Linked DNA regions of Homo sapiens: region 2 is linked to region 1. A link means that fine-mapping ties the variant in region 1 to the plasma level of a protein whose gene starts in the linked region. Region 1 holds a variant in brackets. A gene starts in the other region. All regions are shown on their reverse strands.

Region 1 (8,340 bases):
GAATAATAATTTCAGATTTCAGGCTGGGGCTGGTGGCTCATGCCTGTAATCCCAGCACTTTGCGAGGCTGAGGTGAGCGGGTCACGAGGTCAGGAGCTGGAGACCATCCTGGCTAACACCATGAAACCCTGTCTCTATTCAAAATACAAAAAATTAGCCAGGTGGGGTGGCATGAACCTGTAGTCCCAGCTACTCGGGAGGCTGAGGCAGGAGATTTAATCCTACAAGACCTACAGCCTCAGACAATGCTGCTGTCAGTGATCGTGGGAAGCAGAGTTTGCAGTGAGCTGAGATTGTGCCACTGCACTCCAGCTTGGGCAACAAAGCGAGATTCCATCTCCAAAAAAAAAATTCAGATTTCAGTGTTAAGTAAAGTTGCCTACATTGTGTGAGTGACAGGGCAGTGGTGGATCCGAGAGTGTGGATCTGAGAGTGAGTCAGAAATCAGCATGTAAAGATGAGGATCTATGCACATGAACTGAAAGTATGTAAACAGTTCATGAAATTCTAATAAATCCAGTAGGAAATAAAACCCAAACTTATCCAAAACACAAATTCCCTTGAAATTATTATGGGAGCATGAGTTCATAAAGAACTCCTAACTCCTGTTTCAACTTCTGAATCCTAGTGTCCATGACATAAGAAAATCATCTCCAATTATGCATCACAGGGCAAATCTGTAAACTAAGAGTTTTTCTGTTGACGATCCTGGGGAATCAGGACACCAGGAAGGTGCTGGAGAAACTGTCTCAGGAGCGCCCCAGGGATCTCAGAGGAACGTGCTGGCCACTCACGTGGGACATCAGCGTCACTTGCTCAGAGTCATCAGTGAGCTGTGCTGGTGTCTGACGGGTCCAGCATAGGGCCAAGGCACCTGCTCTGTGTCATGGACCGAGATGGTCCCCAGAATGATCCAAGTGGTCTCTGTGCTAATCTAATGTAGTTTCACAGTGAGAGGCCGTTCTGAGGGGGCTTCTTCTTCAGTGAAAGGACCTCTGTCCACAAATATTCCTAAATGGACAGGGGCATGCATTTCCTCAAGCAGGATTAGGGCTTGGACCATCAGCATCTCACTCTTGCAAGGCTGATGTGTCATTTGTCTTCCCTTTCTTATCATGGATCAGGCTTTGAGCTATGAAATGCCCTGTCTCATGAATATGTAAATACCTGAGATCCACTGAGGTAAATATGGTCTGTGCCCTGAGAGCTTCACCCAACAATCACATCCCGCCTCTAGAGAATCCCCCGAGAGCATGGCTCCTCACCATGGACAGGACCTAGAGCTAATCTTCCTGGTGGCAGCAGCTACAGGTAAGGTGCTCCCAAGTCCCAGTGATGAGAAGGGGATTGAGTACAGTCAAGGAGGCTTTCATCCACTCCTGTGTCCCACCCTCCAATGGGTGTCTGCTCCCAGGTGCAGCTGGGGCAGTCTGAGGCTGAGGTAAAGAAGCCTGGGGCCTCAGTGAAGGTCTCCTGCAAGGCTTCCGGATACACCTTCACTTGCTGCTCCTTGCACTGGTTGCAACAGGCCCCTGGACAAGGGCTTGAAAGGATGAGATGGATCACACTTTACAATGGTAACACCAACTATGCAAAGAAGTTCCAGGGCAGAGTCACCATTACCAGGGACATGTCCCTGAGGACAGCCTACATAGAGCTGAGCAGCCTGAGATCTGAGGACTCGGCTGTGTATTACTGGGCAAGATACACGGTGCGAGAACCCACATCCTGAGAGAGTCAGGAACCCCAGGGAGGAGGCAGCTGTGCTGGCATGGAGGAGATGACAAAGATTATTAGATTGAAGACTTTCTTAGAAAATAGCATTAAGTCATTTACGAAAAGGAACAATATAAATGTGTATTTGAGAAATTGTAATTATTTGAGAGATTTCTTATGCAACATTTATTCTGTAAGCAAATTCTAGGGATTGGAGAATTAATCAAATTAATAAAGCTGACATAGAAATTCCTCTGAAGGTATCTTTGTAAACATCAATTTCTGAATCAGTGTTGTAAATGTTTTGGAACACAGACACAAGATCACATTTTAACTCTACTTTTGTCTCTATAAAAAATGCCAAAAAGAGTCTCATTTTGACCATGTACCTCTTTGAATTCCCACCATCAATGAATGATTGTTCTTGGGTTTCCACATTATATTACCATTTATCATTATGAGAATTGTGTGTTTTAACCATTATAATAGGTGAGTAATGGTATCTAATTTTTGCTTAAATGCACATGCCCCTAATAAAATTCATATTTAACAATTTTCATATAATTTTTGGTGAGATGCCTCTCCTGATATTTGGTTCATTTTCAATAGCACTGTTTTCTTTTGATTAGTTGTAAGTTTACTTGCATATTGATTATAAAAGTTAATTAACAAATTAAAAGAATTCATTTAACAAATATGTGACTTGGAAGTTGCAGGGGTTTGTCCTGCACACCCTGACACAATGACGAATGAATAAAGTGCACTGACACAAAGATATTCTGCTTTGCCAGCTCGACTGAGCATCTGGGCCACTTAGTCACAGCCACCGCCTCGATCAGTCAGGGAGACTTACATTTATTCAGTAAAGATTAATTGACAAAGGCCGTGAGTAAACACCACTAGAAGGTAATTGACATTGTGGACCTCTTGAGTGGAAAGCAATTAAGCACCCGCGGTAGATCAAAGGTTAGTCTTAGGAACACATGAGTAAACAAGCTAGTTAGATAAGCTCCTCACATTCCTTTGTTTCTACTCTACTTTATGTAACTAAAGGTAAGGGGACTAGGCTGCCTTCAGCCAGATTTATTACCAAAGTTATGCAAACTCACAGGCCTTCCAAGAGGGTTTGTGGCTATTAGAACTAAAATGTTTCCCACCAGCCTGACTGGACCACCACATCTCCCCATTTTTTGTTTTCTACATCAGGTCTTTTGGATTGGAGCGTGCAGATATGCGCAGCAACATGTCTGTCAGGTGTGGCAGTCATTGCTCTTATTCTGGCTTTGCATCCTAGAATTAGCAAATAACATAAAACAATCATGAGTAGAATTAGCAACATTCTTTTCCAGTCAGAGTGACCCCCAGGAGCGGGGTCTAACCAGGAGAGATGATCTCACACACCCTTCCATATGACTGTTTGTTGGGGGTGTAGATCTATTGCGTGAAGAGATTCTAAAATTTTAGTTTGAACTTACTTTACGTCTGCTGTTAAATTGTCATGAAAGGTTCCCCAGAGGTATTGTTTTACCTCATCCTAACTATGTATTGATAGATTCCGTGGTAGAGAAGTGATACAGATATGTTCATGTTCCCAGTCACAGTTTAAATGCTGTCAGAATGCCACTGCATCTTGTCGCTCCCTGACATATTCTAAAGCAGCCTCAAGGGCTAGCAGACGTGTGATAATTTTTTGATCTATACCTTGCTGTAAGAGAAGTTCATTAGACACATTTTTGGCCAGATTATCTAAAAAGGCAGCAGTTTACACTAAGTCAATAATACATGCAACAGCAACACTAGCTGTTGCCAGGATGACTATGGCTGAGACTATAAAGGCCATAAGTGTAACTATGAATCTTTTGTGTCTGACCTGGGACAGGGCACGTTCTAAGGTTGCAAGGGCATAGGAACCTTGCCAATTGCATGCCAGATTGACTGGTAAGAATGCCTCAGATTTTCTCTTTAATACCATGGCGCTAGTAATTTTTAAGTTAGATATACTGTGATTAGTGATACATGAGGCAAACCAAGCCTGTCCCTGCATCCAGGTCACAAACGTGGAGTTTTGAGGTGTAATGGAAATGTTAGTTCCCATAAGGAAATCGTATGGATGGGTAGTGCAAATTAGGCACTGATCAGTGTGATTATGAATAAAGCTTATAGCATAGTTGCAACGGGAAATATGGTATGTCCCATGCCAGGTGTTAAGGGAGGTGCTAAGATGTCCCAGACACCATAAAGTACCTTGGGGCGGCATGGACTTTACTTGGGGCCTTGGATATGCCATCCCCCC[T/AT]TGGCACAAATTATAGGGGAAAAGACATGGCTATGAAACTGATTGATGCTCTGATGGATGAAGGTATTAGTAAGGCTGCCCTGCAATCAGCCGCTGGGACTCCAGTCTAAGATGTTATAATTACCTAACTGGAGGCTATGGGCTCGTCTCCCATGACAGACCTCCCAGCTAAAGTCGAACCGATTACTGTCCCAGCTTTGTTCCTTAGCACAGGAAGGAATGTTTGGGAAAGAAGCAGCGGCATGGATTGCATTGCTCAGTTTGAGGCTATCTGCAGCTAAGAATGTTAAGGCATTTCCTTTGCTATGATGTAACCATACTTGTTTTTGGGCAGGTACACAGTAAGGGTTAGAGTCTTTATAACTTACACACACTGGGAGGATAATAGTGGATTGACATATAGTGTTATCTGCCACCTTAGTCCATTGTGTGCCATTATTGAGGGACCCCACGTGGGGTAAATCTATCCCTCCTAGCCAAGCAGTCACGTTACTATAGGCTGGGAAGGGAGTGTCTTCCCATTTGGCAGGGTGAAAGAAAGGTGTGTCTAAGATAGAGGCCCAATAGAGTGTAGCAGGTACAGGTTGCAGACAAAGTGAGAGCATAAAAAGGATTAATACCCTACATGAGTTGCAATGTACAACAGAAATCATAGCACCAAACACATTATCTGGAGTAAATGGTGTCTGCATTTGGAGCAGGATTCGTTCAGCCTCCTGAGTTGTCCTTTTCAGTACCCCCCAGGTAATGTCTGGGGATTGTGTTGTTCACAGAAGCTGCATCGTCCGGGGCTGTAGGTCTTGTAGGGTTAACTCCTTCATTTCTGGTACTGGGTTGGGTCCTAGCAATGTCCTGGTATGGTTTGATGCGTCGTGCTGGAACCCAAAGACGACCCGAGGGGGTGTGGATACAAGCGTACCCTCTTCCCCACATTAATAATTCACTTGGACCACACCATTCATTACTGTTTACATCTTTCCATAAAACTGCAGGTTTCATGTATTGGGAAATTTTAGCAAAGTGCTTTTCTACAGCGGATTCAAATTTGTCTTCTAAATTAAAAAAATAAGGTTTGTGCCAAAAGTGTTGCAGGGTCTGTACCCATACTCCCCTGTTTTTGTTTTTTGTGCATATTTTAAGGGTGGAGTTGGCAAGTTCTACTATTGCTTGTCCTTGGGGTTTATATGGGATACCTGAGGAATGTCGGATATTCCACGTGTGACAAAATTGTTGAAATTGTGAGCTGGCCTAACCTGGACAATTATCAGTCTTAATTTTTGCGGGTTGTTCCATAAATGCAAAAGATAAAAGAAGATGTTTAATGACATATCGAGTAAACTCTCCAGGCGGAGTATGTGCACTACTTAAATGAGTGTTGATATCAAAGGATACATGTACCTATCTAAGTTTTCCAAATTCAGGGATGTGTGTAACATCTGTTTGCCACAACAGATTAGGTTCTAGGGTTAATACCTGTTGAAGGAGGAGACGTGCCTGTGAGCTGGCGATCTCAGAGACTGTTTAGCCAGTCTCTGTATAAGTTGAGCTGGCGATCTCAGAGACTGTTTAGCCAGTCTCTATATAAGTTGGAATTGTTTAGATAAGTTTTTCCAATTTTGGTGGAAAAATTGGTGCAATTGGGTGGCTTGGTCAAGCAGCGATATCATAACTTGAAGGTTGGCTTGATTATTGTCATAAGCTAATGGACCAGGCAGTGAGCTGTGGGCTGGAATGTGTGTAATAAAATAGGATGTGTACTTTGATTTAGCAATTGCTGAAATCAGAGAAAAAGAGTCCACAGGGCTGGCTCCAGAGTTGACTTAATTAGGGCTGTAAAAGTTCTCTAGACCCAATATTAAGGACTCAACTTTAGCTTTCTGAGTGCTAGTAAACCCAGATTGAGTGAATGAATTGTGTGGTGTCCACCAGACTGCTGCTTTTCCATATTTACCAGATCTATCAGTAAACAGTGCTAAAGCATTAAATATGGGGGAGTAAACTATTTTTGTAGGTAACACATTAACTAGGCCTTTTGGGAATGATGAAAATGGGTAAATTCTAAGGGCTGTTAGTAGAATATTACCCATAAAATGAATAATCTTGTAGCCAGGAAACTTTTTCCTACTAGGGAGCAAAGCTTGCTTTTAATTGCTCCCTAACTAACTTAGGGGCTTTTTGTAATGTCTCTCCCTTTAGAGGTTACTGTTTTACTTAAACTGGATTTGGAGTCATGTTAGGAATAAGAGAGAGATAACAGTGGCCATTATTAGAAAGAGGTTTCTCAAATTCTTAAATTTTACTTAACTCTTATCATAGAATTATAATCTGGGATGTCGCTTGTATACAAAGAACATAACAAATTTTGCTTTGGGCCGCCTGCGGAGCCAGAGAGCGGAGCAGGTGGGTCCCAGGGCGGCTGCGGCTTTGTGCTTGCTTAGAAGCCACTTTTCGCCACCGCGTTTCCTCTGTGCCAGCTCCCTCCCCACACTGCTCAGCAGCTGCTGCCGGCAGAGGGGAGCTTCCTGCACTTGCTCCTGCCCCTAATGCCTTTTCTTAACCCTTCGTGTACCTGATTGCCTTGCTGATCTTGCATTACTGGGCAGTCTAAGAGCTCCCCTTTTAATGCTGCTTGTCGAAGACAGGGACATATAGCTGTAGTGTATTTCCTCTATTTTTTCTATCTATTGAAAGAGGGGGCTCAGGCAAAACCTCCGTTTCCTCTTTGTTATTTTGGGAAGAGCAGGTGGTAAGGCAAGTGACGTTTCTTCCTCCTTCCCCTTTTTGGGTTCTTCTTTGTATAATGGGACTAAAGCCATCCCTACTAAAGCCCATAGTGTTAAAGATGATGCTGGGACCCGTTGCGCTTGTGTGTAATGCTGTTCAAGATTTCTCCCTACTTGTTCCCAGAGCTTTACTTCTAGCTTTCCTTCTTCTGGGACCACAGATTATGTGAGACAACAGTTTTCATTAGGTGCCTTAATTGAGCCTGCGAAACTGATGCTCCCCTAGCCTTAAGCAACTGTTACAATACTTTCATATGCTGTTTGTGTTGAGCTGATAACTGCTGTCCCATGATGAAATCTCAGCCTGAACAATCTCCCCTGAACTTGGAGATCCCAAGTGGGCACCAATGACTTACTGTTTTACTGACTTGACCACGCAGTCTTCCTCAACCTTCGTTTTCATGGGGTCTGTCACGCTCCCTTTGCAGCGATCCTCACATGGGGCACCGGCTGTGGGGGTCTGTCCTGCAGGTCCTGACACAACAACGGGTGAATAAAGTACACTGACACACAGATATTCTGCTTTGCCAGCTTGACTGACCATCCAGGTAGATCAAAGGTGAGTCTTAGGACCACATGAGTGAACAAGCTAGTTAGATAAACTCCCCACATTCTTTTGTTTCTACTCAAATTTACTAAACTAAAGGTAAGGGGACTAGGCTGCCTTCAGCCAGATTTATTACTGAAGTTATGCAATCTCTCAAGCCTTCCACGAGGACTTGTGGCTATTATAACTAAAATTTTTCCCACGAGCCTGACTGAACCCCACAGGAAGTATTTTCTCCAAGTCTGTGGTTGCCTTTTACTCCCTTATCAGTAGGTATCGCAGAAAAATGTGTGTGTTTGTGTGTGTGTGTGTTTGTACAAATTTAGATTGAAAACATATATAATTTTATTCATTCATAGATCATGCCTTTGGCATTATATCTGAAGTTTCATTATAAAATAAACTAATAGTCATTATTTTTTCCATATCTCTAATCTCAGGCCACAATCAACTCATGAGTGTTTAAACTTCACCTGCTTGATTGGAGGACCATCAATCTAATGTATTTGGAATACTTCTGTAAGGAGATGTGTTCTTCTTCCTATTATTTTTTAATTAATCATCTATTAATATCAGTATTGGTTGATGGATGTCCATTTTATACTTTGAAAAAGATCCATGCTACATCATTCATTTAATTGTTCAAAGCACCACAGCTTTATTAGGTGCTGGGAGCTCATTTTGTTTGAATCCTGCATCCTTACAGCACACCTCATATTTTTGTTTTTGAACACTTGCGTATTTCCTGGTATTACCATAAATTCTAAGCTTGTTTTCTTTATTACCTTTTTTTACATAGAATCAACCACTTTTATAAAGATTGCATGTTTCTGATGTTAAAGAATAGTATTAAAATAAAACATTGTGATACTGGCTCTGTGTGTTGTTAATGTGGTATGAGTACTTCTAGAACCTCTCAAACAATGGTCCCAGTAAACGTGCATGTTTATGTGAACCCAAGTTTATGGACTCATTGAAACTATTTATGTATCTAATCTTCT
Region 2 (8,340 bases), not on the chromosome of region 1:
TATCTCTGCCTTTTAAAAGCTTATACTCTGAAAAAGAATACAAAATAATTATGCCAGAGACAAGATTCCTAAACCAACAGAGAATAATAATGTATTCATTCATTCACTCATTCATTTATTCACACATGCAAATATTTACTGAATAGTTGCTGATTACATAAAAGACATTCATCCAAATGAGGGTACAGCAAGATAACTAAGACATAAACCTCCTAGCTCCAAGAGATCCAGCCAGGGTCTCATTAAAAACCAACAACCAAAACAAAAACTGTTATGGAATTTTGAAAAACAGGGAAAGTGGGTTTGCCGTGTAGCCAGATATATGTACATCTCATGGACACTGCCATCTGTTTAGATGCCTAGTGTGCATGTGATAAGCTCTAAATTTCTTAGACTACTGGGTTCACTGATGGTACCAGACATAATTTTATATCTTTCCCCCTTGAAGGTCTGGATGTACGCCATTAACTTAATTTAACACATTATGCCACTGGAGTGCCCTGAACCTAAAATAAATCAGTGCTTTCTAGGTATGTTTCCTTTTACAGACATTTCTAAAAATGTATTAAATTGTATCTTTCACTAAAGAAAAAGGATTTGCTCCCAGAATAGCTAGCTACCTGTACTTCAAGAAGTAAGTCACTCCTAGGTAAACTGATTTCAGATGTTAAGCACACACATGCACACCAACACACACAGAATTCACCAACTTTGAGACAGTGGAACTTTCCACCTAAAGAATGTAAGAATTGAACATAAAAATGAGATTGAGAGAACTGCTGTAAGGAAAGAAAAATAAAGATTAACACTTGGAGAAAATAGGAGAGGTTGAAAGCATGCACTGCATGGCTAAAAGTGGTAAAGCTCTAATGCTTAAGAAATTGCAAAGAAGTTGATGAAACGCCAAAATGTCTAGAAAGGCCTCGATCAACATCTTGGTTAGAGAGGGCTAAATGGCAAAATTACAGCAAGTGGACAATTCATTTACCGATACAGGAACTTGGAGAGCAAAAGGAAGTAGGGAGTCTTGATTGCTGGTTCAGAAAAGAAAAATTCAATGAAGAAGCTAAAACTGACCCCCTGAAAAATGTAAGTTTGTCAACTGATTAAAAGTTTTTTACAAAAATATGTTTCCAGCTCTGAACTCCAAGAAACTTTCAGAATATTGTTGAAACATGCCTGTTCCTTTCCCTAACATTCGCAAATTGCATTTTGCATTTCAGTTATAGACCTACTGAAGTTTAAAATGGCTGGAAATTATTTCAAATCTAGAACCTCAAATGTTTCAGAAGAAATAGAGTATTATTCCTGAATATTGGCAACAGCGTTTTCCATTACAAAAAGTATACAGATGTTCCAAACACACTTTTAACCAGAAAAAATGATGTGTTGACACTTAGTTGACTTGATTCTTTTCACCTACATATGAACTCAATCATTTCCCTTTGTCTCCCAGTTTAAGAGATTTACCAAGGTATAAATACTACCATAGGTGTATGTGTGTGTGTTTTTTCAAAAGGTCTGTCCAAATGATGAATATTTTTGACTTCCTTAAAAACTAAGTAAGCAAGCATTAGATTTCAACCTAGGAAAGAAGATTTTTAAATATCCCCTTACCCTAATGTCAGCTGCTACCCACGACCTCTATTGAAATGTTCACGACAAAAGGTCACAGGGTGCCCCATCCCCTCCTAAACAGCAATGGAAACGGGCACACACTCACTGCACTATTCTTCTTAATCTCTATTGGAATCTACCCCATGATACCAAATTGAATATAAATTGTAACTGCATATATATCTATCAAAAGTTTAAATTAAAAAGTAGAGGAGACAGATACAGGGATTTTTTTGAATGGGGTTCAAAAATCTGCATCAGAATATTAAACTAATTACTACTACTAACCCTTCTCAAATGAAGTTGGAGTTTCAATATTACCACAGTCTCAATGTTTGCACATGTTTTACCCTATCAGGGGCACAAGCTTCATTCTCTTTAATTAGGATAAAGACACTGTTAGGGAGTAACTGGGCCATAATTAAGAGTTATATTAGGGAAGGATACACTTTATTAGACTTGAATACTTCTCAGATCAAAAACTTCACCACCATTAGTAGGACATTCCTAGTATAATACATCACTTCCTTTGATGATCTTGGAACTAGAAAAGTCAGATGTTTACAAAGACAGTGATCTCATCGATTCCTGACCACCTTCAAAATTAATATTTAATTGTAACTTAATGAAAGAGCCACACTGAATTTTCTTACCAATTTACCAGATTACATAAAAGAGATTGCCAAACACCGTATTACGCAAAATGAAAGCTAATTTAAATGTATTAGACTCTAGAGTGTGGAAATGGAAAAATCTTGCATTTTTATATGGAAGGTGTTTGTGGAACTCCTTGAGAAATAATATGTTAGAATACATCATTCATGTCTTGGTACGAAATCAGAAGACCTAAGGGTAATATAAATGTATATGAAGAGTTTTATGTTTTTTCACTCACATGAATAGGGGATTGGATAAAATCATAGCACCATATGATTAATACTATACATACCAGGTTTTGTTTGAACTCCAATTCTCATTCTACTCACCATGCACTACACACTGCACAAGGATCACTCTTTCTCTAGAGACAAACCCAACACATACCCACACAAAAAACCCTCATATCCAAAAGTAAAGGATAACCAGACAATCTCTAAGATAAGAACTCTCAAAAGTATGGATCCGCCTTTCCTATCGCTCAGCCTCCTTAGTCTTGACAGCAGAGTGAAAACTGTTTTCTACAGGTGAAAGCCCTAAGTCTTCATCAAAGCCATACCAGGGACGGAAAGGTAGAAAAGTATTAACGCTAAAATCTCACGCCTAAGCTTTAACACCCTTCCGGAACAGTAAGACAGAACTAGGCCCATCAGAAATTCTACATAAAATCAGTGACCACTAGTCACTAGTCTCCTAGTGCTTGAAACTCTGAGAAAGCAATCAAGCAGTCCCTCATTTTCCTGAGATTTTTGGGCTGGCCTGAGCACACACAAGACCAACGGAGTCAAATTAAGTTGGCAATAAAACAAGCGGTTCCAAGAAAGCAAAAACTATTTTCAATTCCACATCTCCAAGACGCCTCAGGCTACAGTATTCAATCGATACAAATGACATTCACAACAGAAGCCGATTTTGCAAAGCCCTTGGAACTTAGGGGTCTGCGTCAGCACTCTGGAACGTCTATGCTTCCTAGGACCAAAGAATAAACAAAGATAACTCAAGGCATAAGGCGATCCAGCACCTAAGATCTCAGCAAAAAAAAGCTAGGTCCTGAGGCAGCTAGTGGAAAAACAAGAGAAGGGAAGTCAAAAGGCTACTTGCTGTCAGCTAAAGCCAGGTCAGTACTAATCTCTACTTTCCTGGACATTGGTACAAAAAGCAATGACAAGGCCATCAGTCCCCTGTTCCCCTCGCTCACTATTGTGTGTGTGTGTGTGTGTGTGTGTGTGTGTGTTTTGTTTGTAAGAAAATGCTTATAGTGGCTTCCCGCCCGCGCAGAACACAGCCAAGACTAAACTTTTAAACCTTGAGGAAGGTGGGAAAGTCAGCCAGCCAGACGCCGGCCTAGGAAAAGTAGGGAGAGAAGGAGGGAAAGAGTCATGTTTCAAAACAAAGGCTCCACACGGAACTGAATGTCAACCCCTCTCCACTTCCCAGCCTTCAAGCCAGCCAGGCTGGGCCTCGATTTTTTAGAAGCGGAGTAAGTCAGATTCACCCGGCTCTCAGCGTCCACTGAGGCTTTGCGATGCACGAGAACACGGGCACAGCCACCTACTTGCTGGGGCTGCTGCTAGCCCCCCCCCCCCCCAACCACCCCCTTGAGAAAAAACGGGCTTGGAACGTCGGAGACTTGCCCAACGTCCCACACTAGAACCTGAATTCAATTCCTTTCACGTCCGGGCAAGGCCAACGCAGGGCGGGCACCGGGCGAGGGCCGCGGGAGCCGAAATGGCAACGCCCCTGACCTGAGAGAACCTCGGGCTGGGAGAGGGGAGGGTCCCGCGCGCTCTCCCTCCGGGGCCCTTACCTTCCTTGACTCCAGGCAGCTTGGACTGGTCGATGCTGACTTCAGCCATACCGGGCCAGGGTCCCGGTTGCCCCTTTAACGCGGGCTTCCCGGTCACCGCCGGCGCCGAGCGGGGCCCCGAGCGCAGCAGCAGCGCCGGACGCGGCGCAAAGTCCGGCCGGCAGGGCTCGCAGGCCGGAGAACGGAGCGGGTCGGGCGGGCAGGGGCTGGTGACCAAAGCAGCGGGAGACGGTCCCCGAGGCACCAAGCTGGCGGCCCAGCTGCCCCGCCGCGGCCACCTGCTCCGCGTCCCCGGCCCCAATCGATACCAAATATCCGGAGCCCGGAAATGGACCGGGGCCGTCCAGTACGGAGGGAGAGAGGAGACAGAAAGGCGGGCGGGCCGGCTGGGGGAGGGGGAGCTGCAGGTCTGTAACCGCAATTGCGAGTGGCTGGCGAGCGAAGATCAGCGCCCGCTGCCGCCTCGCTGTTGTCTCCTTTGTGCTCAGTGACGCGCCGCCTGAGGCTGGGGCCCCGCTGTGCTCCCGCCCCCGGGCCCTGCCCCCCTCCTACGGGAGGGTCGCGTCTTTAGGTGGGGGCCTTGTATCCTAAAGGCCTCAACAAAAAGGCCACACGGGTCACCTAAAACATAGTCTTTCCCGTGAGCGGTGTAGTCAGCATTCTGTGGTCTGGTTCTGGGATTGAGATTAACACAGGATGTTTACTGCATGCTTGCCTCTCTCTCATACACTCTTTTTGCACCCGGAATTAGAGGAGAGATGGTAGATGGCCATAAAAACCCCAAATACAACGTACAGAATGAAGAGCAGCTGATAAAATTCTGGGCCAGTTTGGAGTAGAGTGTGTACACAATCAGCTGGGAGAACTGAGTCATTCATTCATCAAAATCGCATGAATGTGTCTACCAAGTGTGATGTTAGGTACTGTGGGTGATAACGAGGCGTCAGACTTATCTCTGTTATAGCGCTGCACACATTGGATTGTAATTGTGACATTTCTATCTCTCTAAAATAGACAACCTCTCCTGTTTCATCTCCTGGCAACAGAATGCATCCTCCTTTTGGGAAACTGCCTCTTTCCCCACTCCTCAGAGGTGAGCTTCTCTCCCAAACGTGTGCCATGTCTGAACCTCGAGACTACCCCATCACTCTTCCCCCTTCCTCCACCGACATGGGTTCATCGAAGGGTGGCTGGGTGACCAAGACAGGTCAAACAGAATACTTTCCTGGGTACATAAAGAGTTACATATTCTGTTTCTTGTGGAAAAGATCTGCCTCTAGGAGATGATGAGGCCAAACTGAAGACAGAAGCAAAGAGAAGAGAAAGGGAGATGAAGAGGGCATGTTCTGATGTTACCACAGTAGCAAAGCAGGATATCCCCAGAGCAGCTGGCATTTCAGCAACTCCTGGATTCTGGGATCTACAACCCGCAAACTCTCAACTTATCCTCAGTTTTGCTTAAGCTAGTAATAGTTGATTTTCTGTCACTCACAGCTCAGAGTCCCAGTATGAGAGGCCACGTAGGGGAGGTTTTATTTGAACTTGACATTGAAAAGTAGGTGGATTTTAGGCTAGCAAAAATTTAGAAGACTTTCAAGGCCAGAGGGTAGCAAAGTATAGCCCACAGGCCAAATCTACGCCACTGAATTTGAATGACTGTTTTTTATATGTTCAAATAATTACATTTCAAATCACTACATAAATAGGACATAATATTTTCGACCTTGCCTCTTAAGCCTCAAAGTCTAAAATATGCTTTACAGGAAAAGTTTACCCACCCCAGTGCTAGGCAGAGATAACACTCAGCAGGTTAAATGTGGGAATAAGAAGGAAGTGGTATTAGAAAGGTAGATTTATGGGAATTTTTTAATTGTCCTGTAATCTAGTAATTTTTTTTAACTTCCTGTGGTCTAGAGAATATTTATAACAGCAGTATTTTCTGTTTCCCTCCCCAAATCTATCGTTTCTACTTCTCTACCAAGCCGTGCCTTTGGATGCCTACAGATAAATCACTAGGCCCCTTTGACCTGTGGCTTCCTGTTGTGATTGACCAATGGGAAGCACTGGCAGAAAATCAAAAGAAGGGAGGAGAGAAATATCAGAGTATTCTTCTTTCCTTTAACCCAAAATTTTGGCCACAGTCCTGTCCCTCTATGACTACAGGGCCTGTGTAGAGGCCTCTTTTCCATGGCCTCAGCTCTCATGGGTCTCTAATAAAACAATTTGTTTCCAGTGTCCCTTCAGGCCTAGAGTGTGATGGCTTCCCCTAGTTCCTTTTGGCTCACTGCAACTTCTGCCTCCCAGGTTCCAGTGATTCTCGTGCCTCAGCCTCCCGAGTAGCTGGGATTACAGGTGTGCACCACAACGCCTGGCTAATCTTTTGTATTTTTAGTAGAGGCAGGGTTTTGGCATGTTGGCCAGGCTGGTCTGGAACTCCTGGCCTCAAGTGATCCGCCCACCTCGGCCTCCCAAAGTGCTGGGATTACAGGCACGAGCCACCACGCCCGGCCTCCCCTAGTTCTCTTAACCCAGTTAATACCTCTGAAATTGTCTCTTCATTACATTCTTTTCAGTAAAATCACTTACAGTGCACCTCCTGTTTCCTACCTAGACTGTGACTGTTACAGTAAGATATGCCAAAAGTAAGATATGCTTAAAATATGATGTGCTTACAGTAAGATATGCATAAAAATATCCACATTTCTGGCCTAGAGAAGAAATGGAAACATATATAATAGCCACAACTATTGTTTAGAGAATCGGCTGCTTTCAGCAGAAAAAGTAATGAAAACCAGGAGCCCTTTTCAGGTACTAGAGCAGATGACCTGGAAATCCACCCCATAGTTGGGCTTTCCTTCTCCTACTCCACACCTGTTCTGTATAGGTCCCCAAGCTGAGCAAACAATTAGAGCTCAGCATTACAGAGTAGGCAACTTCTAGCAAAGGACTGACAGTAACACGGGGAAGAGCTAGTATCTTTTGAGTATTTATAGGGAATGAACATATGGTGAATTTCTGTAACAAGTTTACATCTTTTGGTGTCCTGAAATGTCCATTTTGCAATAAAAGAGAAAGCATAAGGCTTCTCAGGATGGATACAGATCCCTAATTTGGGGCAGATGCCAAACAAGTAATTCAGCATCAAATCACAACTTGAATGCCATAGAGAGAAATAAGGATTTTATTTATAAGGCAATATGGAGGCATCAATTGATTTTTTTTTCTAGGTGGATATTACATGATACATTTTCTACTTTTATAAAGTGAATTTGGTAACAATAAAATGCTTGGATTGGAGTAGGGAGACTTTGGTCATAAGAAATGAAAACTCCAGTTTGAAAACTACCAAATTCCACAAAAGCATCCCCCAGTTAGAGCTTACCTTACTAGAAGGTAAGCTCTGTGAGGGCAGGGGTTTATCTGTTTGATTCCCTAATATCCGCGTATCTAGAAAAGTGCTTGGCACATAATAGGCACTCAATAAATATTTGTTGCATAAATAAATAAATATAGTTATCCAATTTTATTATCAGTAAGAATCACAAATTAAAAGTAAGTTAAAAAAACAATATAGGCAAATGAATAAATTACACTGGACCTTGGCAAAACAGGAAAGGGGACCCACAGAACTATACTTCTGGAAAGAATTATCTGTCTCCTTGGCCCCCAGTGCTTCCTAGCTCATCAGCATAATATACCTAAGAGAACAGTTCCAAAAATGAGGATGCAATTAGAACTGTTATTCACTTTCACCAAGAAGACTGTATGAATATTCTAAGGTTGCCATAACAAAATACCACAGACTGAATGGCTTAAATAACAGAAATTATTATATATGTTTTTCACAGTTCTGGAGGCTAGAAGTCCAAGAGCAAGGTGTCAGAACATTTGGTTTCTTCTGAAATCCCTCTTTTTAGTTTGCAGATTGGATTAGGGCTAACCCAAATGTCTTCCTTAAAGACCCTGTCTGCAGTGCAGTCCCTCTGAATTACTGGAGGCTAGGGCTTCAACATGTGAATCTTAGGGACAGATAATTCAGCCCATAGTAGAGACTATTAGGACAATAATCCAACCGTACAGTTTAGGCCTCTTTACTCCAGGCCTTGAAGCATTTTTGTCTGGACTCTCATAACATATGTAAGTTCCCCAACCCTATTCATGCTCTCAACTTTCCTCAGTTGCTCAAGTCCCCTCACCCTATGGAATTCACTATCAGTTACTCACAAAATTCCCCATATCTCCTTTGTAACTATTCCCTT

Which allele goes with the higher level. Positions count from the first base shown, and alleles are read on the strand shown. Strength reflects both the effect of a copy and how common the allele is.
With allele T in place of AT in region 1, the plasma level of the protein whose gene starts at base 4,411 in region 2 is lower (strong association).

Evidence for each region. PIP is the posterior inclusion probability: the model's chance that the variant is causal. The UK Biobank Pharma Proteomics Project read protein levels with antibody pairs (Olink). The fine-mapping took linkage between variants from a reference panel, not from the people measured, so its PIPs are less certain.
Region 2: it holds the start of CCDC50, and the variant in region 1 is fine-mapped to the plasma level of the CCDC50 protein (UK Biobank, PIP above 0.99).

What each region holds. Positions count from the first base shown.
Region 1 is chr14:106,697,213-106,705,552 of GRCh38, reverse strand. It overlaps IGH and the pseudogene IGHV1-68. Among named protein-coding and RNA genes, the nearest start is that of MIR5195, 150 kb to the left of the region's middle. The variant T/AT (reference allele first, on the strand shown) is at 4,010.
Region 2 is chr3:191,325,465-191,333,804 of GRCh38, reverse strand. It overlaps CCDC50 (coiled-coil domain containing 50), which reads right to left and starts at 4,411. Exons shown (of 12, transcript NM_178335.3): 1 at 4,082-4,411. The coding sequence starts at 4,130. It overlaps UTS2B (urotensin 2B), which reads left to right and starts at 3,279. Exons shown (of 9, transcript NM_198152.5): 1 at 3,279-3,391; 2 at 5,096-5,174. RefSeq lists enhancers at 3,642-4,242, 4,243-4,844 and silencers at 4,256-4,535, 4,636-4,715.